Homo sapiens: one gene and its partners. The protein of the gene in region 3 interacts with the protein of the main gene of each other region in a pairwise test. Each region holds a gene or a part of one and is shown on either strand. Other genes may lie near its edges.

Region 1 (7,036 bases), on a different chromosome or scaffold from region 3:
GTCAGAACTGGCAGAGACCTCCAGTCCAACCATATCTGTGTAGTCTCTGGAGTTTCAGGGGATGGAGAAGAAGGTAGGGGAGGCAGGGAATTGCAGGGGCCAGAGCTTCCAGGACTTGGGCCTCCCTGCTCTGATATCACTAGAGCAGACCTTAGCAACTCCCTTCCCCACATCTTACCTCATGATTGGTTACTAGCAGTGGCCTTCGGGGCAGGAGAGACCACAGGGTCATTTGGACCAAATCCCCACTCAAAGCTATAGCACTTGGGACTGCAGGGTTCTAGGCTCTGCCTTAACAGGGCCTAGTTGTTGGCCTGGGCCAGGTGCTGAACCTCTCTAAGGCCAGTCTCCTCATCTGTGAAATGCATGGTTCACTATCACTGTGAGGATGAGCTAGAGAGTGATGTATAATAAAACCACCTAGGATGGAGTCACAAGATTCACAAGCTCCAAGATCCAGAGCCTTAGAAGCGGGTTCCGCTCTCCTGCCTTGAAGCCTCCACTTACCACAGGGCTGGGGAGGACAGCTGCCTCCCCCCACACATCTGTGCCTGGATCATAGGTGAAGATTTTGCTCATGAGACCCCCCATGACATAGATGGTGTCCTCAAGGGAGACAGCCTCGAGACACCGCTGTGAGAAGGGTGCTGGTGACCGCAGGCTCCACCGGTCCTCCTTGGGGTCAAAGCACTGCACCTGAGGGGCAAGAGCAGCAGTGGTGAAGACTCACCGCCCCCCCCAACAAATGCCCCACCGCCCACATGCTGCCACCTCTCCCCCCGGGGGCACTCATTCAAAACGACATTTGCCAGTGTCCACCAGGCCTGAGCCAGCATCTGGGAGGGAGGGGGAGGTCCACCGTCCCTGCCCTCAAGGGCTCTTCATCTAGTTCTATGTTCTGTCCTCTGCCTCTGGACTCCCTTTGTCAAAAGCCTCCTCATCTTTCGAGGTCCTGCTCAAATGCCACCCCATCCTTAAAGGTCTCCCTGGTGTTCCCCCCTCCCCTCACCCCTCAACACACACACACAGGAACAGTCTCTCCTTTGATGGAGAACACAGTCGCCTCATGTTAGATTAATCATAGAGCACATCATACTGAGCTGGGAGAGGTACTGTCTGCTTTAGGGTTATAGAGGGTCCTCAGAGCAGACCCCCGACGGGGATGTGTTCCTAGCTGCATACACTGTCAACTCCCTTCTCTTTTCCTGGTGCTCTCAGGTCATTAGATTCTAGCTGAGGTGTCTTGCAGCCCTATTTCTACAGCTGTCCACATGCCCATGGGTGTTTCTGATGCCCTTAACAGTTTCTGTATTTAGCTGCCTGCTCACCTCACTCTCTGTTTCCTCAACTGTTTCCTTGGAGACCCCCTCCCCCCACAGCAGCCTATAACAAATCAGTGCTGCATGGATGGTGTTAAATGGGGCCTCCCACCATGAGTGCCTATCACTCAGCTCCAGGAGGGTTTGCTGGAAGAATGTGGTCAGGGAATAAGGAAGCGTGGGCACCCTAATTTGGGAAAGAGTCAAGTCCTAGGACCACAGGCTTATGAGGCCATCAGGGGAGGGAAGGAACTGCTATGATAAATATTTTTATTTGCAAAAAGCCTAAATGTCCCAACAATAAAAGATGAGTAGACTCTAGTTCATCCACCATGTGGAATAGTACAGACATTGAAATGATGGCTGTAAAGTTGATAATCACGTGGAAAATGCTCATACCTAAATTAGAATAAAATGCAGAATGCAAAATTCTAACAAAACAAAACTGTAAGAAAAACAAAAATCAATTCAGTGGAAGCCTGTAAGGCAACACACCAAAATATGAATAGCAGCTCTGCCTAGACGGTGGGATTATGGGTTTTTTTTTTTTCTATTTTTCTGTGTTTTCTAAATTTTCAGTAGTAAGTGTATTGTTTTTGGAATGGAACAAAAGCATTTTAACTATCTTGCCCTCAATTTTTAAAATGTATGAAACTTACATGGCACCAGCCCAAACATTTGAGTCCCAGTGTGCTGCTGACCCACTGTGTGACCTTGGGGTCATTTTTCTGCTCATTTCCTTCCCTGAAACATGGAGGTGACTGGTCTGGGCTGTTGATGGGATTAAGTGAATAAATGGACAAGGGCATGGAAACGCCCAATTCTGCGCCTGGCACACAGTGGGCACCCCAGCCTTCAACGCCCTCTCGCGCCTGAGGCCCACGCCCACCTTGTCCGTGTTGACGCCGCCCTGCCTGGCGCCCCCAATCACGAAGAGCTTGCCCGCGCAGGACGCCACCGCCGCCGAGCTCACGGCCTCCGGGAGGGGCGCGGCGGCCGCCCAGGTGTTGGAGAAGGGGTCGTAGCGCTCCACGCTGTGCAGGCGCCTCAGGCCGTCGAAGCCACCCACCGCGAACAGCTGCAAGTGAGGACATGGGCCGGGGAGCCGGGTGCCAGGGCCTTAGGGCCCTCGGCCTCATCGCTTCAGTCCTTACAGTCTTTGAGCTGGAAACTATCCCTGTCCCCAACCCAGTTTCAGGACCAAACTGACCCCCGAGCCCAGTGCTGCCACCACCTGGGCAGCCTCCACCCAGTTGCTGTACCTCCCTGAGCCGGTTTCCTCTCATTTAGCGGGGATGAGACCTTAACCTGCATGGTTACAGCTGTAAAATACCTGGCACCAAGCTGATGCTTAATAATAATAGCTAGTATTGAGACTTTACCACCCCACTTAATTGATTCTAAGAAGCATCTTTGTTTCTGAATTCGGGATGTAGCTTACAAAGATAATTGACTTTTTTTTTTTTTTTTGAGACAAAGTCTCGCTCTGTTGCCCAGGCTGGAGTGTAGTGGTGCAATCTGGGCTCACTGCAAGCTCCGCCTCCCAGGTTCATGCCATTCTCCTGCCTCAGCCTCCTGAGTAGCTGGGACTACAGGCACCAGCCACCACGCCGAGCTAATTTTTTGTATTTTTAGTAGAGACGGGGTTTCACCGTGTTAGCCAGGATGGTCTGGATCTCCTGACCTCGTGATCCGCCCGCCTTGGCCTCCCAAAGTGCTGGGATTACAGCCACTGCGCCCGGCCGACAGATTCTTTTATTCTTGAGTGGCACAGTCAAGATTCAAACCTAGACTCTATGGCCCCAGAGCCCATACCCTTGACCATCAGGCTGTTACTATTACAGTAATTGCTATTATTATTAGCATCAGCCATTATTATGTGACCTTGGACAAGTCTCCTTTTTTGGGGGGCTTCAGACCCCTTCTTACAAAGAGAGGGTTTTAGAGAACCTCCCTCCAGCACATCCACAGATCTGTACCTTGTGTCCCAGGGCAGCCGCTGCAGCTCGTGCCTACCTGCCCCTGCACAACTGCCATCTTGTGCCTCCACCTGCCCTTGTGCAGAGAGGCTACCTTGATCCAGGTGTGCAGATGGGAGCTAAACATCCACACATCATGACTGTTGATGTGGCCTCCTAGGGAGAGAGAAGCAGCTGTTGCCCATCGGCTCTCTTGCTATCCCAAGCACCCCCAAAGAGCTAGAAACTAGGGCCCCCAGATCCAAAGGAAGGGTTAAGGGAAGGCAGCAGGAGGACTTCTTGAGCTGGTGTAAGACTCTGGACCTGTGACCCAGTGTGCTTTGAATAAGTGGTGGGAATGTCTGAGTTACGACCCTCGAGGGGAGAAGCCTGACACATTCAGGAAGAAGGGGCTGGTTTTCGCCGGGCACCTTGTGGTGGTGGTGGTGGTGTGCCAGGCTCTGTGCTCAGGAAAGCAAAGAGGGGGCCGCTGTACTAAAGGTAAGAGTACAAAGGGTACCTAAGGCAAGCATCTGGAATGTACTGGGGATCCAGGAAAAGCAGAGCCAGCTGCACTGGGAGCCAGGATAGGTAGAGGGTGACCCAATAACCCTCCCTCCCTTCTGCCTTCACCTGCACAATTTCATTTCTGATCTCATCCCTCCATGAGGTGTTGGGAATATTAGACCCAGTTTACATATAAGAAACTCAGATGAGACTTAGAGACCAACAATGACCTGCTGAAGACTACATGGCCTTTTGTCAGAGCCAGAACCAGAGCTTCTGGCTCCAGGCCCAGCATTGGTGCTGCTGGAGGACATGGCATGCCCTATGGGGCCAGGTACTGGGGATGCAGGATGTGGACTCTCCCTTCCCATGTCTGGCCACCCTGGGGATCTTGGCCAGGGATTCACCTCTCAATGGGAGCCTCCCTGGGGACAACCCTAACTGCACCCTTCAGCCTGAGCCTGTGACCAGAGCCACATCTGTTTGGTAGCCCCATCTTTGTTTATTCCTAGTGGCACCCAACAAAGGCCCCACATGTTGCTCAGAGCCATCAATGGCCTTGGATAAATTGTCCAGTGGTAATCTGTGGCCTGGATGGTCTGTGAGGCCTCCCTGGCTTATTCTCCTGCTCCTTACTCTTTGCAGGCACCCATAGTTCTTTACAACATTAAGGTCAATCCACCTAGCCCCAGACTCAAAGCCTCCCTGATCTGACTCCTGCCTCACCTGTGATACTCAACCTGCACTTCAGAGCCCTGAGTCCCCAGGGTTCCTTTCTGCATGTCCCTGCCCTTGTGCCTTTGCCCATACTGTTCCCTCCAACTTTCAAGGTCCAGCTGAAAAGTCATCTCTTCTATGAACCCTGGCTAGATTCCCTGAGTGGCATTCCAGATCATCTGGGGACTCTGAGAATTCTGATCACATTCTGCCTGGCAGTAAAAGTGAAGTCTCTCTCCTCTCCAGGACACTCCAGGGGAGCAAGGACTGTGTTTTATGCTTCTCTGAGTCTTTAGGGCTTGAGCCTTAGGGAGGACACAGTTTGTTGGTATCAAACAGATGTGTGTTCCTCCTAGCTTTGCCATTTTTGAGACAATGGGGGAAATTCTGAGCCTCTCCGAGCCTTTCTTATCTGTAAAACAGCATTGTAGGGGGATTTAATGATAACGAATGTAAGCTTCTTAGCATAATGTTCGGCACATAGTAGGCTAGTTGAAGTGATTATTAATACTAATACGAATTGACTTCCTTAGGAAGCCGGTTCAGAACAAAAAGTAATCATATGTATTGAAGTTAACATTCCTGAATAAAGGGCGGGTCACACGCGTAGTTAGCCCTGCTCACTTCAGCCAATAACTGTAGGTTATCAGAAAACATCCCGCCCCTCTCTCCCGATTGGAGGGAAAAGCAAAGGGGGTGGAGTGCGGAGGCTACTAGTCAATCCCGTGTGAGCTCCCGTTGCGGCTCCGCCCTCACCGGAGACGTAGACGTCATTGCGGAGAGCACAGGCGGCGAATTCTGAGCGAGTGTAGCCGGGCAGGCTGGGCAGTGGGGTCCACCGCTGGCTCTCTGGATGGTAGGCATCGGCGAAGGGCAGCTTCAGGAGACCTTTGCGGTCGCAACCGCCGATGACCACGATCACTTCAGCTAGGTCCATGAATCTGGCGTGCGGATAAGCCCAGTGCCTGTTGGGCCGCACCCAAGTTCGGCCCTCTCTTACCCTCTCGACCACACTGCACGGTCCCGCTGCCCTTTCATGCGTTTCTGCCATCACCCCCGCCCACCCGATCCCCCGGCCTCAATCCCGCTAGACCCTGCCACTTCCAACTTTGCCTGTGGGTACTGGGAAGAGAATCGCTAATGCTTACCGCATTCTGCTGACCTCTAAACTACAGAAAAAAAAATCTTTACAGAGCCCTTGCCCTCACCTAGAAAAATCACCTCGTTTAATCTGTATGGCAGTTCTATTAGTAGGGATTATTACCCCTTTCTCAGGGGAGGAAACTGAGGCTCACATACCATGGCGTGCCCAAAGCCATTAAGCGTCAGAGCTGGAATTCAAGCCCAGGTTTGTCTGTCGCTAACTCATCTTCAACACCCTTTTCTCACCTCCAACCGCTGATTCTGCTGCCTCCCTCCTCCTATGACATCCCCTCATCCCTAATTCCATTAAGCCGGATAACTCACCCTTTCAGTAAATCATTCTTCCCTCTCACTGACCCCACCATCTGACGCCACCAGAATTTCCATACCCTTTTAGCCATTGGTTTTCTAATTCCTTTGGCACATATTTGAGGATCTCTGTCCCAGGCCCTGTGCTTAGTGTTAGAGAGAGTGTCGTCTCTGGGGGCATGATTAAGGGCTACTCTGCCCAGAGCCTCCCAGTCTGGCTTTCCAAAGGTGGGGCAGGCTGCTTTCACTACTTCCCCATGCCCCTGCCTATTTCTATCCCTCATTAGACTGCGAGCTCCCAGAGGGCAAAGAGTGTTTTCAAATCACTTCCGCATCCCGGCACCCTGCACAGAACTTGCGTAGAGTAGTAAGTACTCGGAATTACGGTTGCATGGGCCAAAGAGAGTGTGCGCAGCTGTGGGGTCTCTGCATCTCCCTCACTGGCTTGTTAACTCTTCAAGGGCAGAATTATGGGCACCGAGCCTCTAAAATGTTGAACGAATGACTGAATATCATCAAGAGGCAGTACTAAAAGATGATGAAAGAATGAATGAGCGGTGGAAGCAGGCGGGAAGAACGGAGGGCGGGAAGCTAGGGGATGGCGGCCCTACCTCCGCGGCCGGGTCCGCAGCGCACCGGCCTCGCGGCCCAGGATGAAGCAGGCGCGAGCCTCGAGCAGCAGCGGGCGGCACTCGCCGCAGGCCTGCAGCAGCTCGTCCGCCTCCACCTTCTCCAGGAAGTAAGCGGGCGCCAGTAGCGGCAGGCGCACGTGCTCCAGCAGGCGTCGCAGCTGGCCGCGGCGGGCCGGCGCGTCGTGGCGCACCCAGCGCATGGCCGCTTCAAACACGGCCTCCTCGCGCGCCACGCCCAGCGCGGGGTCCGCCAGCAGCGCCACCACCTCGTCAGGCGCCAGCTCCAGGAAGTCGGCGTGGCGCGCCACCTCGGCGAAGGCCTGACGCAGGACGCGGCCGCAGCGCTCGGCCAGCGGGGCCAGCGAGAAGGCGGCGGCCACGCGGCGCAGCGCTAGGCTGTTGGCGGCGCGCAGGCGGCCCTCGAGAAAGCGCACGCAGGCCTCGCGCAGGC
Region 2 (3,218 bases), on a different chromosome or scaffold from region 3:
ATGACATTTTACCGTCAAACTTATCCATGAGTAAAAGTTGGGTATACCATATTTTCAGATGTTAATGCTTCCTTGAGATTTAGCAGTTTTAACCTTGACTAATATAGCCCTCTAGTGTTAAGATCATGGGTCTTGGAATAATGATATGGCCTGTCACATGAATTATTTTCCATCTTCAAACTTTGCAATACACTGGATTCTGCAAAGCAAGCTGGCTGATTTGAACATCAAATTATTATTCACAGTATTAGGTAGGAATTATATCTTGTGTAAGAGACACATCCCCAAGGCTCTTTCATTCAGTGTAGCAATACTTATTAAGTGACTATTGCATACTGCACTTCAGTGTCTATAAAAACACACATGAAAACTCTGGAATAGCTGCTTTCTAGGAAACTTGTCAGGTCACACCTTAATAACCAGGAGATTCATAAACCTTATCAGTGGTGAGGTTAACATCTCATGCACTTCTATGAACACCTCTGAGAATGTGAAGTCAGGGCTGGCTTGTAAAAGACAAATGATTCAACACATAGTTTGAACTTTTATTTATGTTTAATTTTTTAATTTTTACAAGATGCCGATAGTAGCTGGCTTATTAATGTACATTATTCTTTGATATTTCAGGAAGCCACAGTGTTCAACTGTGAACTACAGAGTCCTGTAAGTTTAAAATAACTTTGTTTCTCAACTATGTGATATCCAGGATTTTTTACAATTACTTTGAGATTTTTCCTCATCAGTAATGCAAAGAAAATTGCAATATGATTATACAATTTATTTTTATTTTTTTAGACAGGTTATCACTCTGTCGCCCAGGCCGGAGTGCAGGGGTGTGATTGTAGCTCATTGCAGCCTCAAACTCCTGGGCTCAGACGATCCTCCTTCAGCTTCCTAAGTAGCTGAGATTACAGGCACGTGCCACCATGCCTGGCTAATTTATTTTTTGTAGAGAGAGGGGTCTCACTTTGTTGCCCAGGCTGGTCTCCAACTCCTGGGCTCAAGTGATACCCAGCCTGGGCCTCCCAAAGTGCTGGGATTACGGGTATGAGCCACTGTGCCCAGCCTGATATACAATTTCTTCCTCAGACAGTCTGGCTCTGTCGCCCAGGCTGGAGTGCAGTGGCACAATCTTGGCTCACTGCAACCTCTGCCTCCCGGGTTCAAGCAATTCTCCTGCCTCAGCCTCCCGAGTAGCTGGAATTACAGGCATGCACCACCATGCCTGACCAATTTTTGTATTTTTAGTAGAGACCTGGGGTTTCATCATGTTGGCCAGGCTGTTCTTGAACTCCTGACCTCAAGCAATCCGCCCACCTCAGCCTCCCAAAGTGCTTGGATTTCAGGAGTGAGCTTTTGCACCTGGCCTGATATACAATTTCTGATGCTATAGAAGCAATGTATAACTCCTAATTTACTAGTGACTGCTATGCGCTTCATTAACATTATGGACATGTCGATCCCAAAAATCATATAGAAATGTTACTTTTTTTTTGAGACAGGGTTTCACTCTGTCGCCCAGGCTGGACTGCAATGGCGTAAACATGGCTCACTGTAGCCTCAACCTCTCGGGCTCAAGCAATCCTCCTGCCTCAGCCTCCCAAATAGTTGAGACTACAGGCATGTGTCACCACACCCCTTAATTTTTGTATTTTCTTTTCTCATTATGTTGTCCAGGATGGTCTCAAACTCCTGGGCTCAAGGCATCCTCCTGCCTTGGTCTCCTAAAGTGTTAGAATTACAGGCATGAGCCACTGTGCCCAGCCAGAAATGTTAAACTCACTTTATGGTTTCAGAACAAGGATCAAATAAAATAAAAATATAAAAAATAAAATATGGTTGGCCAAGTGTGGTGGCTCAGCCCTCTAATCCCAGCCCTTTGGAAGGCCAAGGCAGAAGGCTCGCTTGAGCTCAGGAGTTCAAGACTAGCCTTGGCAACATAGCAAGACCTCATTTCTGCTAAAAATAAAAAACATTAGCCAGACATGGTGGTCCACACTTGCAGTCCCAGTTATTCAAGAGGCTGAGGTGGGAGGATCACTTGAGCTTGGGAGATCGAGGCTGCAGTGAGCTATCATCGTGCCACTGCACTCCAGTCTGGCGACAGAGCAAGACCTTCTCAAAAATAAAATATGGTCGAAACGGGACAGACAAGGCGGCTACCTGTAACCCTGGCCGCTTTAGGAGCTGGGGCAGGAAAGTTGCTTGAGGCCAGGAATCCGAGACCAGCCTGAGCAACAGCAGGACCCGTCTATGAAAAAACAGGAGCAAGTAGTGGCACATCCCAATTGTGTCAGCTAACTGGGAGGCTGAGGCAGGAGGATCGCTTGAGCCCAGGAGTTCAAGGCTGTACTCCAGCCTGGGCGACAAAGCAAGAACCCTGTTCTCTAGGGAAAAAAAAAAAAAAGTCAAAACATTTCATAAAACTTTCACACAATGGAGGTTTAGTTAAGCTGTTACTCTTCTGTTCAATTTTGTTGCACCTATCAGAAGGCATAATTTCATAAAATCAGGATTCCTTGGCGTTTTAACCACTCTCAAAATATTTGATCCTACTGGAAGTTACTATGCAATGCTATCTTGTCCCTGAATCAACATAATTCAACTATCAGCTTCATATATATATATATATATATATATTTTTTTTTTTTGAGACAGAGTTTCGCTGTTGTTGCCCAGGCTGGAGTGCAATGGCGCAATCTTGGCTCACCACAACCTCCGCCTCCCGGGTTCAAGCGATTCTCCTGCCTCAGCCTCCTGAGTAGCTGGGATTACAGGCACGCACCACCACCGCAGCTAATTTTGTATTTTTAGTAGAGACAGGGTTTCTCCATGTTGGTCAGGCTGGTCTTGAACTCCCGACCTCAGGTGATCCACCCGCCTCGGCCTCCCAGAATGCTGGGTTTACAGGCATGACCCACTGTGCCTGGCAGTTTCGTGTATTCTTACTCCACTGGGTTCTGCTTTATCGTATTGACAGTAGACATTTCATTAAATGAAATGTAAAAAGAACACCAATACATACATATTAAAATTTTCTTACTAGAATCTTTTAGTATAATTTAAAAACCTGAAATGAGAATTCGCATCACTTTAAGTGGGCCTCTTGGGTTTTGAGGATGAAGTGGCTTTCTCTCAGAAATAGCTTTGAACCGTAACTCTAGTAACTACAGTGGCAGGCTCCATAGCTTGAACACAGCGTATTTTGTATCAATGCC
Region 3 (7,036 bases):
GAGATGCTTGTGTGTGGAAGGAAGGCCGCATGGGGGAGCGGTGAGGAGGTGGCCATCTGCAAGCCATGGAGAAAGGCCTCAGGAGAAGCTAAACCCTGATTTTGGACTTCCAGTCTCCAGAACTGTGAGAAAATAAACTTTTGTTGTATAAGCCACCCTGTCTGTGGTATTTTGTTATGGCAGCCTGAGCAGACTAACACAGAATGTAAGTTCTTACCGCTGCCTCTGGGAAGGGCAACTCCTGACAGTGCCTCCAACACGGAGCTCTTGCCCGAGCTCTGGTCCCCGATGACGGCGATGGCTGGCAGGGCCAGGTCCTGCTCCACACCTAGAGCCCGCAGGGAGTCAATGAGGTCGATGCAGGGGCGCACCTTCTCCTCATACTGGCTGCACAGGTTGTTCTCAGCCACCTGGAGGAAACAAAAATGGAGAATTCTTCATGGCCTGCAAATCATGCTCATGATATGGTTTGGTTCTGTGTCCCTACCCAAATCTCATCTCGAATTGTAATCCCCATAATCCCTACGTGTCAAGGGAGAGACCAGGTGGAGGTAATTGGATTGTGGGGGAGGTTTCCCCCATGCTGTTCTCATGATAGTGAGTTTTCATGAGGTCTGATGGTTTTATAAGTGTTTGGCAAGTTCCTCCTTCAGTCATTCTCTCTCCTGCCACCTTGTGAAGAGATGCCTTCCTCCATGATTGTAAGTTTCCTGAGGCCTCCCCAGCCATGTGGACTGTGAGTCAATTAAACCTCTTTTCTTTATAAATTACCTAGTTTCAGGCAGTTCTTTATAGCAGTGTGAGAATGAACCAATACACTCCATTAAAGACGGCCAACTTCAATAAGTCTAATACACAGGTTACTGGAATCCCCAAAAGAGAATGGAAGAGAGACAGAAAAAAATATTTGAAGAAATAATACATACAATTCCCTCAAACTTAATGAAAACCATAAACCCAAAGATCCCAGAAACTCAACAGACATTAAGCACAGCAAACATAAACATCATCAAGCCATAAGAGGGTCAAATTGCTCAAAACCAGTAATAAAGAGAAAATGTTAGGAGCAGCCAGAGAATGATACAGTGTGAGCAGAGGGACACAAATGAGAAATCTGCTGTCAATCTTATCAGAAGCAATAACAAGCGAGAAGACAGTGAAGCAGTATTTTTAAAGTACTGAAAAACACCATCAATCTAGAATTCTATACCCAGCAAAAATAACTTTTAAAAATGAAGGCAAAACAAAGACTTTTTTAGCCATTCAAAAGCTTAACTAATTCATTACCAGCAGACCTGCACTACAGGAAATGTTAAAGAAGTTCTTTAGGTAGAAGGAAAATGATACTGAATGGAAATCTGGATCTATACAAAGGAGTCTATACTAGAAGGGGTAACTACTACACTTTTTTGTATTCCTTTGCTATCTTTATTTAAAAGATAATTGAATGTTTGAACATCAATAATAACAATGTATTGTGGGGTTTATGATGTATGTAAAAGATGCATGATAGAAATAGTATGAAGGCTCAGAGCAGAGAGATGGAAATACACTATTCTAAGGTTCTCGCACTATACATGAAGTGACAGACTATCACTTGAAGGTTGACTTATTAAGTTAAAGATATATACTAAAAACACCAAGAGTTATACTTAATAAGACAACAAAGGAGACATGATGGAATCATAAAAAATAATCCAAGAGAAGGCAGAAAAAGACGAAAGGGGGAACGAAGAACAGACGGGACAAATAGAAAACAAATAGCAAGATGATATTCTCAAATCTAATTATATTACCAGTCACATTAAATAGAAATGATCTAAATATTCTTAGTCAAAATGACTTTGAAAAAGAAGAACAAAGTCAGAGGACTAGCATTACCTAATTTCCATAATTACTATAAAACTAAAGTAATCAAAATAGTGAAGTACTTGCATAAAAACAGAGAAAGCAGCAGACTTCACACTCGGTCCTGCCTACCTACCAGCAGCTGGGTGCAATTTTCCTAAAGTGGGCTGATTGAGGTTCAGGAAGAAAATATGAGAAAATCATTTTGTCTTTTACCTCTTTCTAATGACTATTTTTGTGCATGCTTCATCATAGACAGACGTTTTTACTAGAATAGCTTCTTTATAACAGGACAAGAAGCTATTCATATTTGGGGTTAGAAGATTGTTTGTTGCAGGGGCTACCCTACACATTGTAGGAGGTTTAGCCAAATACCTGGCCTCTATTCACTATTCACCCTGAGTTGTGACAACCAAGATGTCTCTAGACCTGGCCACAAGTTCCAGGGAGCAAAATGGGCCCTGACTGAGAAAGAACCACAGCCTTACCAAATGCATGAATACAGTTGGTAGCCTCGGTCTTAGTTCACCTTATAACTTTTTGTTTGTTTTCATTTATTTATACTATCTATTTACAAAAGTGTGTCAAACATAATAAAGCAAATATGCATGTACCAACCACTTGGGTTAAGAACACAAACACTCCCAGTACTTAGGACATTGCACACACCTCCCTGGGTCAACTCCTTCACCTCCAGAGGGTCCCTCTATCCTGAGGCTTGCAATCATCACATCCTTGCTTTTCTTTATAGTTTTGCCACCTATATGTTTTTCCCACAATGGTATATTGCCTATTGCTGCCTGTTGGGGAATTTTACGTAAGTGGAATCATTTTGTATATTTCCTGTAACTTGATTCTTTGGTTCAACGTTGTTCATTTGATGCAGCCATTTTGATACCTGGAACTCTAGTTCATTCCTCTTTACTACTGTATAGAATTCTGCTACATGAACATACCACACTCCCAGTATCCATTCCACCATGACAGGCACGTAGACAGGGTCTGAGTTTTGCTGTTATAAACAGTGCTGCTATGCATGTGGCTCCCAGGGGGATGTGCAAGGGTTTACACATGGTCCTCAAACTCCAGCACACAGCAGAATCACCTGGAGAGCCTGGTAAAGCACAGGGGGTGGGCCCTGCCCCAGAGTGTCCAATTCACCAGGTCTAAGAGTGGGAGGAGGGGCTGGTCATTTGCATTTCAGTCAACTTCCCAGGTGATGCTAATGGGCTGGGCTGGGGGCCACACTTTGAGAACCACAGTCTATCCCCAGAAGTGGAACTGCCAGATCACGAGACACACTCTGTTCTCCTTGACTGGAAAAGGCCAAGCTGCTTCCAAAGCACGCAAGTATGAGTGGGTGAGAGTTCCTCCTGCCCCATACCCTGACATAATTACATCTCTTACAGCCAGACAAGAGACGCACCAGGGACGGAAATGCAGAAAAATGTAAACGGTGGTATCAGGGTGGTGGAAAGGTGGTGGTCCTCTGTATTTTTCTAAACGCTTCAATGTTTTTTGAATATTGTTTGAAAAATTGTTTAACATTGCCTAGGAAAACAGAGCCAGCCTGAAACAGACCAGTGATCCACGGTAATAAGAAACTGAGCACTCTGAGTACCTGGACACTCCCTGCACTTTGCTCTCAGCCATATAAAGCAAAGACCATTATTCTCATTTTAGATATGGAAAACCAGGCTTATAACAGGAGGAATAACTACCCACAATCACACAGCTGAGAGTGTCAGCGTCGGGACCAACTGAGGTTGGACTGATTCCAGGGGCCATGATTGGTTCCCACCAAAAATATGTCTTGATTCTGGGCAAAAAATTCACCACGTGGCTTCCCTACAAAGATAATATCTTAATGATGCCCCAGGGTTTGTAGCTTGAGACTGAATCATGATGTGGGCAGGAAAAACAAACCTAGTGCTCCTTGAACCCAGGGCCTGGGCCAGTTCCTTCTAGTATAGATGAGCTGAACCCATCGACAGCTCAGCCAGTGTCCCCAACCCCAGCAGCACCTCCACCCACGGTGAGCTAAGGCAACGAGTCTATACATGGTTGTCAGCTGGCAAGTAGAGGGTCAGGATCTGCGTCCTGGCACAGGAGAGGCGAGAGAGCAGGCATATCTGGGCAGCAGTAGCACCGCTGTAGAAAAGGGCAGCCTCGAATGGGCATGGCTCATGTCACATGGATAGCGACTTTCAGAGAGCAACTTACCGAGCCTGGATTTTTCTGGGCCACAGTAGCATCTCCATTCAGTAATAGAGGGTGGGATGCAGCAGCTGGATCAGCTTTTGCGATGTCCACTTCGGAAACAACCATCTTCCTTCTTTGCAAAGTAAGCTTAAAATAAAGCAGATGCCTATTGAACAGATAAGCAGCTGGGTGCATTCAACCATGGAACCAAACCCACCACCAGAACGGAAGGCCCCTGGAGGTGGGGACTCTGACTAGTTGTTCATGGTGATGTCCCCAGAGCGTAGAAGAGTGCCTGGGACACAGTGTGTGCTCACTGGCTTTTTATTCACGGAAAGAGAAACAGAGTGACCCAAAGAAGCCAAGGTCAGATAAAGACAAACGCTGCCTCCCTGCTCAAGGCGCTTCAAGAATATCCCTCCAGGCCGGGCCCCGGGGCTCACGCCTGTAATCTCAGCACTTTGGGAGGCTGAGGCAGGTAGATCATGAGGTCAGGAGTTCAATACCACCCTGGCCAAGATGGTAAAACTTGTCTCTACTAAAAATACAAAAAAATTAGCCAGGCATGGTGGCGGGCACCTGTAATCCCAACTACTCAGGAGGCTGAGGCAAAGAATTGCTTGAACCTGGCAGGCAGAGGATGCAGTCAGCTGAGATCACGCCACTGCACCCCAGTCTGGGCAACAGAGCAAGACTCTGTCTCAAAAAAAAAAAATAGAATATGCCTCTGTTCCCCAAAATATTTTCTAAAACTATCTCCTGTCATAATTTTAGGTTGAACTTCAAAAACGTTTTCAGTATAAATTTGAATAGTTGCAAAGTATACAACTTCTGATGCAGTTGTAATACAATTAAAAAGTTTACATTTAAAGGCTGGGCACAGTAGCTCACGCCTGTATCCCACCCAGCACTTTGGGAGACCAAGGTGAGTGGATCACCTGAGGTCAGGAGTTCGAAGCGAGCTTGGCCAACATAGTGAAACCCCATCTCTACTAAATATACAAAAATTAGCTGGAAGTGGTGGTGTGTGTTTGTAGTCCCAGCTACTTGGGAGGCTGAGGCAGGAGAATCACTTGAACCTGGGAGGTGAAGGTTGCAGTGAGCCGAGATCGCACCACTGCACTCCAGCCTGGGCGACAGAGCGAGACCCCGTCTTAAAAACAACAACAAACAAAAACTTTACATTTAAAAATAAAATTGTTATAGAACTGTTTCCAATGTAGCCAAGAGAATCCAAATATTACGGTAATTTGATACCCAAACCTTTAGTTTAAAAAACACGTGAGCTCTAAATCTTTTATGCTCTTTCTTTTGATCATCAATTTCATATTGTCATTCTTTTACTCCCACAAATGGGGGAAATGAAATGTCATTCATTTTACTCTTGAAAGCATGTAACTGACTGCCTTATACTTGTCTGCATTACAAATACACACGTATGTATTTGAAATTCATTTTTAAAATGTTGTAGGACAAGTGCCTAAATATGAAATTTTACAGTGTCTAATAATCTTGGATAAAAGTAACTGAAAATCTTTCTCCTATGACTCAAAATAAATGTTACAGAAAATAGCATGCACCAACTTACCTCTAATATACGTTCCTTCAAATAAAAGTAATGTCAACAAGTTAAATGGTATCACAGAGCTGTTCTCCTGCACCTCCTTGAAATCAAGCAAAGTGTACAAGTAAGACCCAAACCCGCGGAACACCCGAGAGTACCCACCCACCCAGTCCCATTCCCAAGTCTGAGAACCGGGCAAGTGCAGGAGGGGTGTGCTCTGAAGCCGATTCTGACTTCCCAGAATCCTTTTCCTATGTTTTGACTATTTTAACTATTTTAACAGATGAATAAAGCACAGAGCTTTGCTGCAAATCTGCTGCCTGGATCAATAATATGTAAGGATGCTCTCCTTGCTTCCCCTCGCAGGAATCTCCCCCGAGAGCCATGTGATCTTTGTCAGTACCATGAGGGTTGAAGGGACAGGTTGTTAAAACAAAACTCATCACCCCTGCCTGTCACCCTGCTCTGTAACATATCTAGCTGCACACCTGAGCCAATGCCATTTCTCCATCACACTGGAGTTCACAGAAACGCCCATGTCAGGAAGGTTGGGAAGTGCTGCCATGGGTTCATGCTGCCTTGGCTAAAGAACACGTCCCCAACACCAATACTTAAAACTATCCTTTTCTGTCTCCCTTCCCCGGGTTTATACACTTCCAGGGCAGGCATCCTTGCTCGATTTGGAAGGGAAGAAAGGGATGTATTTCTTTCTTTTTTTTTTTTTTTTTGAGACAGTCTCGCTTTGTCACCAGGCTGGAGAGCAGTGGCGCAATCTTGGCTCACTGCAACCTCCACCTCCCGGGTTCAAGCGATTATCCTGCCTCAGGCTCCCAAGTAGCTGGGACTACAGGTGCACGCCACCAGACCCGGCTAATTTTTTGTATTTATTTAGTAGAGATGGGGTCTCACAGTGTTAGCCAGGATGGTCTCAATTTCCTGACCTCGTAATCTGCCCACCTCTTTTGTCAGGTAGGATTGGGATGGTTATAAAAGGTAATCCATTGTAAACGGTACTTATGGAGTCTGACAATCTGGGAATTTATTCCCTAAAACTCCCATGCCTTTGGAAATACCTCATGTGCCCAGGGCATCCCAGGCTCGATATCAAAGACCACCACTTCATCTGCCTCTCAGGAGTACCAGTCTTCTGGGCTATGGTTGCCTCAGTTGGCCTTTCTGCAGCCAGATAAGGAGCATCATTGAGACCAGGACTTGTACCACATGACCACAGGTTCCACTCAATCAGCTGAAACAGGACTTGGTGAGTAGATTCCCTTCCCTAATTTGCTTCATAAAATGAGATTCTCTGAAAGCTAAACCTTATGGGTTTTGTCTGTAAACCATAAACGTTTGTACCTTTCCCTGATCATTCGGAACATCAGTTTGGATTTCAGGGGCAGGGCAATCTCGGGAGTTCAAACC
Region 4 (7,268 bases), on a different chromosome or scaffold from region 3:
ATGAAAATACAACATATTAAAATTTTGTGAGATGCAACTTAAGCTGCACTTTGAGAAAACGATATAATTTTACAATCTTAGCTCTTACATGTAGAAACCAAATGCTTTATTCAACCAATTTTGAATGTGCACAAATATGGGGTATATTTTTCACGAGCCTTTCTGAATAAACTAGAAGACAAGCTCCAGCCAACCAAGAGATGGGGAAATTTTTGGTAAAAGGACCAGAGATAAACAATTATTAATAACATACTTAACTGGAGATATAAGCCAGTAACAAAGCTGCGGATATGAGTTGTAAAGTGTTATATGTTCTGACAGTGTAGAAACAATATAACCAACAAAAACTGGGAAAGGAATGAGGAGGAAAAGGGAGAAAAGTAGAACAAGCTTGTTGACTGTCTCAGTAGCTGGCAGTCAAAGATAATACTTACAGCTGACATATCAAGTAGTAGATGTATATTCAATAGAACAAAGGTAAACATTAAAAAAAGCCACTGGTCAGGTGCAGTGGCTCATGCTTGTAATCTCAGCACTTTGGGAGGTCGACATGGATCACTTGATCTCAAGAATTTAAGACCAGTTTGGGCAACGTGGTGAAACCTTGTCTCAACAAAAATAAAAAAAAAACTAGCCAGGTATGGTGACATGTGCCTGTAGTCCTAGCTACTTGGAAAGCTGAGGTGGGAGGATTGCCTGAGCCTGGTACGTGGAGGTTGCAGTGAGCCGAGATCGTGCCACTGCACTCCAGCCTGGTGACAGAGTGAGATTCTGTCTCGAAAAAAAAAAAAAAAAAAAAAAAAAGACTACTACTGACTAAACTTGGCAAATGAAGGAGAGAATGGAGTGAAGAATAAAAAGGACATGGTAGGGTACCGATATCTATTGTCAAAAGGAAATAAGTGTATTATAAAGAAGGGAATGAAGTTGTTATCAAGGTAAATCACCAAAACAAAAATATGATCAGAAGTAGTATATATATATTTTTAAAGCAAAGAAACAGACCAGCAAGATAAAACTTCTAAAGCATGTGCACATGCTCACATTTGTAGAGGGGCTGTATCTGTGAGACTGCCCCTGGGGGAGGCCATTAATATGAACGCCATGCCCCAGCTGTCCCTCGCTTGGAGCCTCTTAAGGCAGGATTGGGAGGCTGCTCCCAGGATTAGCATCCCATCCATTCTCACCTTTCTGGCAGCTTTTCAAGATATCTGGTTCCTCAGCTCCCAGAAGATTCAGGACCCAAAGTTCCTTCCCCTGCTCCAGCTGGGAGATCAACTCCGGCTTAGGGACAGGGAATCCTGTTGAGGATGAGGACACTGGTGAGCTGGCATGGCCCACTGGGCCTTCCAGGCCAGGTGTGGAGAGATGGGCCCTGTGTGCACGTGTGTACGCCTGCACGTGTGTTGGTCAGGGGGCCCGTGGGCTGAGACTAAGTACTGAAGGAGAATCCACTCATCAGCTCTCCTGCCACTGGAGGGACACCAGTGGGGCCACTGGCAACAGGGAGTGAAGTCCCTAGAACTGGGGAGCAAGGCAGGCTTTTCCCATGGGAAATGTTCCTTCTGTAGAGATCAGACTGATACCCGGGGACAAGGGGCAGGACCCTCTTCTTTGGGATCCAAAGAGCCAAAGCAGCCTCCCAAGCTCCTCAGAGGCCCCCACTGCGAACCAGGCCAAGTGCAGAGAGCCTCACCCAGAGAGGCCACGTTCCCATAGTTCTCCAGCATCACATCCCGGTAGAGCGCCCGCTGCTGGGGGCCCAGCTGCCGCCCCTCCGCCTGAGAGAAGTACACGGCCACATCCTGGAAGGTCAGCGGCATCTCCTGCAACAAAACATCGCCGCTGCCCAGGCCATGCCCACGGGGCAGCAGCCTGCACTAAAAGGGCCCTGACCTGGTGGGGCCCCACTACCCAGGGCCCTGCTGTGGTCAGTATGAACTGTGTATCAGCAGGTCCCTGATGGGGCAGCTGAGAGCGCTGAGGACCAGCCAACTTCAGCTACACGGGGACCCAGCTGAGCTCAGAGCCCCTCTCCCTGCAGGAGGGCGAGTCTACCTCTCAGAACCCTTTCCTCACGGTTGCTATGAGCCCCTGGCTGGCCTTACCAGTTGCCGGGCTCACGGCTCCAGAGGAGAGTAGCTTCTGACTGGGATGGGGATGAAGATGAAGAGGTGGGCAGGAAGGAGGGTTAACTCACCTGGTGCCCTGGAAGCTGGAATGTGGCTGCCATTCTGTGTGCATGGGCTGCTGTGGTTTCCAAGAGAAGACAGGAGACTGCCCTGGCCTGAAGTCTCCCCGAACTTACCTTCAGTGGGGAGAACTCAGGCTCAGCCCCATTCAACCAGGGGTGTGGAAGGATGGCCAGGAGGCAGAAGCTGATTGCTGCTGTGGCCTCCTGGGTCGCGGGAGGCAGGTCACTATGCAGCACGGGCCGACGTGCCCTACTGCTCAGTGACTCCTGAAATCCCAGAACGGCCAGAGCCAGAGCCCGGGGGGATCCAGGGACGCCCGGCTAAGGGGTGAAAGCTGGCAGTTCCCGTGGTCCAGACCTGCTGAAGGCCCTGGAAATGGGGTGCAGGGCCGTTCTACCTGCCTGGCCAACCTGGGGCAAAGAGCCACGTGAGGGTGCAGCCTCACCAAGGCTGAGGACGTGAGAAGGAGGCCGCGGGGATGCTGCCGAAGGCCCCAGGCTCCGGGGAGAGGCCGGAAGCCAGCTGTGGTCCTCAGTCCAGCCTTCTAGGGCCGCGCCGCGGTCGCCTCCTCCCGGCCTCTGCAGCCCGTCGGTGGCTCCCGCGGCACCCAGAACAGGCTCCTCCTGGACTGGCCGCCGCCTCCCCGCGCCCTCCCCGCGCCCTCCCCGCCTGCCTGCCCGCTTGGCGCTCCTTCCTGGTCCGACACTGCCCCACCTGTTTGCTCGACCCGGGGAAGCCACCGAGGAAGCGCCGAGGAGCTGCGCAGTCGCACCGAGCCCGGAACGGACCCTCCCACAGAACCGGGTCCAGAGCCGGGGAGGGGGCGGGCTAGGATGAAGAGGGCGGGCCGGGCCGAGCTGCGCACACGCAGGCTTCCCCGCCCCCTGCGGGGCCTCAGTACGCCTCCGAGAACGCCGGGAACCGGAAGCCAGCCGCGGTTCCGCCCGGATTCTTCCGGGGCCGCTCTGGGATGACTGGAGGCCTGCGCCGTCTATGGTCGGGGAGGGGGAGAGCCCACGGCAGCTGAGCGGAGGGTCTGGCGCGGTGACGCTGCGCATCCGGGCCGCGCCGCGCTCGCCCCGACCCTAAACCCTCACCTGAACCCTAACCCCGCTGGGCTCCCGGCTCCCCCGTCGGTCACCATACATCGTGTGTCCCGATTCACCATAACCACCAGAAAGTCGCTTATGAAGATGTTACAATTATCGGGGCTCAGAACACAACGCCCCAAAATGAAGGCCTGGGAGGCAGTTTCCCTCTGACCTTCCCAGGCCTCCAGTCTCAGTTCTTTTCTCCCGCGAGGCTCCTCACAGAGTGAATCCCTTTTACCCAAGGCGAGTCCCAGAGGCCAGACCCCCAAAGCCAGCCACAAAACCTAAAAACACGACTCTGATGTTCCCCCCGCTTTTCTGTGTGAAAACTGGCGGTAAAGGCCGGGCGTGGTGGCGGGCGTCTGTAGTCCCAGCTACTCCGGAGGCTGAGGCGGGAGAATCGCTTGAACCCGGGAGGCGGAGGTTGCAGTGAGCCGAGATCGCGCCACTGCACTCCAGCCTGGGTGACAGAGCGAGACTCCATCTCAAAAATAAATAATAAATAAATAAATAATCCATTTATTTGCCTTTTCTCCAAAAATCTGCCTTTTATGAGTTGGCTTTCAGTGAACCTTCAGAGGGCAAAGAGGAACTTTCCCTTTGGCCCCTACACAATAAAGCATGGTTGAAAAAATAGCACTTGATAAAGGTGAGGAGACCAGCTTAGGAGCAGGGGGAGAAGGAAAGGAAAGCCAAGCCATCTTGTCACCCAGAATATAGTGTAGGCCCTGTACACTGTGTTAGAATCAAGGCAGAAATTTTATATCTGAACTTGAGACGATCAACGAGGATGGAGAATGTCTAGAAGTCTAAAGCACCATGCAAAGTCACACATGATTAAGAAGATGCCTTACATTATTAATATCAGTGCTGGGGAGATTGTGGAGAATTACGCACTGCTATGCTTGAGGAAGCGTGTTTAGTACAATGTTGAAAATGAATTAAGCTGTACATAAAGAGCCTTAAACACTTCAATTAATCTAGGAATCTATCCTATGGAAATAACAAAAATGACAAAGAGAAGGGTGCCCATTCCAGAGTTTGTTGTGTGTGTGGTTTTTTTTAAATAATGGGGAGAATTTGGAAAATAGCTAGTTATTCATAGAAGGGGAAATGGAAGATAATTATGCTTTTTGCAGCACAGAAATAGATAAATCTATTGTCTTCTGTACACTCAGTTGAACATTATGCAGCCATTATGTGTGGTATTTGAAAAAAAAGTATTGGCAGAGGGTAATGCTTATGAAATAGAATGTGAAAAATAGAATACAAAATTATATTTATGATATGATCTCAATTGTATATATGGGTGTTTAAGTTCACAAACTTAAGGTTTCCAGATATAAGGACCTAGGTTGGTTTGTTCACTGCTCAGCCACCAGCCTGGAACATAGTAAGTACTCTATAAATACTTGGGAAGTGCTTGAAAAACGTATATAAAAAGCTGAAAATAAATACATCATTACTAGTTGTAAGATTGCAGAATATTTGATTTCCTCTTTTTCTTTTTCACATCTCCTACAGGGGGCGTGTAATCACTCTGTGACTGGTGGCTGCAGGCTCTCCTAATGGATATTTCCTATTTACAGGGCTACCAACTGCCAAGCATCCAAGCAGTCCCTAGGCAGCAATCCAGCAGCTGACAGGGTTACCGGCGTCAACTGCCACAGATGCTAGGCTGGTTTGCCATATTTACATGGATTTGATCAGCAATGAGCACAAAAGATAGAGATTGTTTCTTTCTTTCTTTTTTTTGAGGTGGAGTTTTACTCTTGTTGCCCACGCTGGAGCGCAATGGTGAGATCTTGGCTCACTGCAACCTCCACCTCCCAGGTACAAGTGATTCTCCTGTCTCAGCTTCACAAGTAGCTCGGATTACAGGCATGCAGGACCATGTCCAGCTAATTTTTTTGTATTTCGTAGAGACGGGGTTTCACCATATTAGTCAGGCTGGTGGCAAACTCCTGACCTCAAGTGATCCACCTGCGTCGGCCTCCCAAAGTGCTAGGATTACAGGTGTGTGCCACTGTGCCCAGCCTAGATTGTTTATTTCTTACTCAAACAGCTACAGCATGATCAGCAGCCTGTGTCCCTAGACACACAAGATGACAGCAAACCATAGGGGCCAGATGACAGAAAGCACAGATGGTGGCCACGGTGCTGCTGAGGCGCCAGCTCCACACTGCAGCCAGGCAGTGGTGTGTCCGCAGCTGTACCCCAAGGAGGGGCAAAGGGAGCATCCCAGACGCAGCCAACCAGGGGCCCAGGGGCGCTGCTGTCACTGTCGTTTCTTACAAGGTTGCTTGTCTCCCTTAGTTTCAGGAGGAACCTCCAAGCATTCTGCCAAACTCAGTTCACACGGTGATGGACCTTGCCACACAGCTATGTGAAGATGTCCAAGGTCCTCAGGGCCCAGAACAGAGCTGTTCCCTACTCCACTGACCTCCCTGTTTCTAAAACCAGTGGGCTTTTTTTTTCCTTTGAGACAAGGTCTCTCTCTGTTACCCAGGCTGGAGTGCAGTAGCACAATCTCAGCTCACTGCAACCTTCACCTCCCCGGGCTCAAGCAATCCTCCCACCTCAGCCTTATGAGTAGTTGGGATCACAGATGCGTGCCACCACATCGGGCTAATTTTTTGTATTTTTTTGGTAGAGACAGGGTCTTGCTCTGTTGCCCAGGCTGGTCTCAAACTCCTGACCTCAAGTAATCCACCTGCTTTGGCCTCCCAAAGTGCTGGGATTACAGGTGTGAGCCATAGTGCCTGGCCACCAGTGGGCATTTTTTAGTTTTCCTTTACTTGACCTCTCAGCAATATTTGACACCATGAACTGTCTGTCCTTCTTGGAACACTTGATTTCCTTATCATCAATAATACCACCCTTCCTTCATTTTCTGCCAACCACTCTCAATCTCCTTTGCTACTTTCTCCTCTACTCAGTGTCTGCCCTGCGCATTCTCCTTACTTTATTCTACATTTTCCTCTAAGAGAGCTTACCTTGTCTCATTTCTTCAACTGCTACTTACATGTAAATTACCCCACTTAAAAAAATTCCATCTCAGACCTTTCTTCTGTGTTCAAACCTTTAGAAATACATACTCAGCATATTTACCCATTGGCTGGGCACGGTGGCTCGCGCCTATAATCCCAGCACTTTGGGAGGCCGAGGTGAGCGGATCAACTGAGGTCAGGAGTTTGAGACTAGCCTGGCCAACGTGGTGAAACTCCATCTCTACTAAAACTACAAAAAATTAGCCGGGTGTGGTGGTGCACGCTTGTAATCCCAGCTACTCGGGAGGCTGAGGCAGGAGAATCGCTTGAACCTGGGAGGTGGAGGTTGCAGTGAGCCGAGATCATACCATTGCACTCCAGCCTGGGCGACAGAGCGAGACTCCATGAAGAACAACCACAACAACAACAACAAAAATTTAAGCGGGCCTAACACCCACGGCAAGCAGTGCCGGAGAGGGCAATCAGACTGGGGGCCGGGGCAGGCCCTTGTTCTCACTCCTCACATTCATGACAAATATACCTGTGTCTTGGGAAATTCTGGGGAGGAAAATTCAGACCCTTCCTTCCACCGTACCCTCTCAGGAGGAGTGGTGGGAAGAGAGTGACTTCATTGGGAATCCTTAACCTGGGGGACGGATGGCAATCCGTCTGTATCTTCCTCCAGCTGCCTGAGGTACATTCAGTACTTGCATCACCAGTTTCCACGTACAAAAACACCAGAATTCAGGCAGCCTGGCCAACATAGTGAGAACCCATTTCTAAAAATAAAATAAATAAAATAATAATAAAGCCGATTAGGGACCATGATTTTGCATCTGCAGCCACAAGCGCCTGCTAACTGTCATGAGAAACTGACCCTCCCAGTCATATGTAGAGGCCTCTGCCATGGCAAAGAGCAGACCCCAGTGCATTCCGTCTGATCCCAGGAAGATTGGAAGGACAAAGAAGCTGGAGGGGCGGGAGCTACCTTG

What was found.
Region 1: the proteins of MX1 (region 3) and KLHL35 interact in a two-hybrid assay, tested with the Homo sapiens proteins (one study listed by BioGRID).
Region 2: the proteins of MX1 (region 3) and SLC25A3 interact in a two-hybrid assay, tested with the Homo sapiens proteins (one study listed by BioGRID).
Region 4: the proteins of MX1 (region 3) and ZNF251 interact in a two-hybrid assay, tested with the Homo sapiens proteins (one study listed by BioGRID).

What each region holds. Positions count from the first base shown.
Region 1 is NC_000011.10:75,423,185-75,430,220, forward strand, and holds part of KLHL35 (kelch-like protein 35), read right to left. Parts: coding exon 6,565-7,036; intron 5,443-6,564; coding exon 5,258-5,442; intron 3,455-5,257; coding exon 3,336-3,454; intron 2,398-3,335; coding exon 2,209-2,397; intron 697-2,208; coding exon 508-696; intron 1-507.
Region 2 is NC_000012.12:98,603,686-98,606,903, reverse strand, and holds the end of SLC25A3 (solute carrier family 25 member 3 isoform b precursor), read right to left. Parts: 3' UTR 537-3,218; downstream 1-536. UniProt on the Homo sapiens protein: Inorganic ion transporter that transports phosphate or copper ions across the mitochondrial inner membrane into the matrix compartment. Mediates proton-coupled symport of phosphate ions necessary for mitochondrial oxidative phosphorylation of ADP to ATP.
Region 3 is NC_000021.9:41,429,211-41,436,246, reverse strand, and holds part of MX1 (interferon-induced GTP-binding protein Mx1), read right to left. Parts: intron 5,715-7,036; 5' UTR 5,639-5,714; intron 4,217-5,638; exon of another isoform or gene 4,198-4,216; 5' UTR 4,177-4,197; coding exon 4,072-4,176; intron 411-4,071; coding exon 218-410; intron 1-217.
Region 4 is NC_000008.11:144,752,496-144,759,763, forward strand, and holds the start of ZNF251 (zinc finger protein 251), read right to left. Parts: upstream 3,037-7,268; 5' UTR 2,910-3,036; intron 2,882-2,909; exon of another isoform or gene 2,309-2,881; 5' UTR 2,234-2,308; coding exon 2,201-2,233; intron 1,827-2,200; coding exon 1,697-1,826; intron 1,302-1,696; coding exon 1,188-1,301; intron 1-1,187. UniProt on the Homo sapiens protein: May be involved in transcriptional regulation.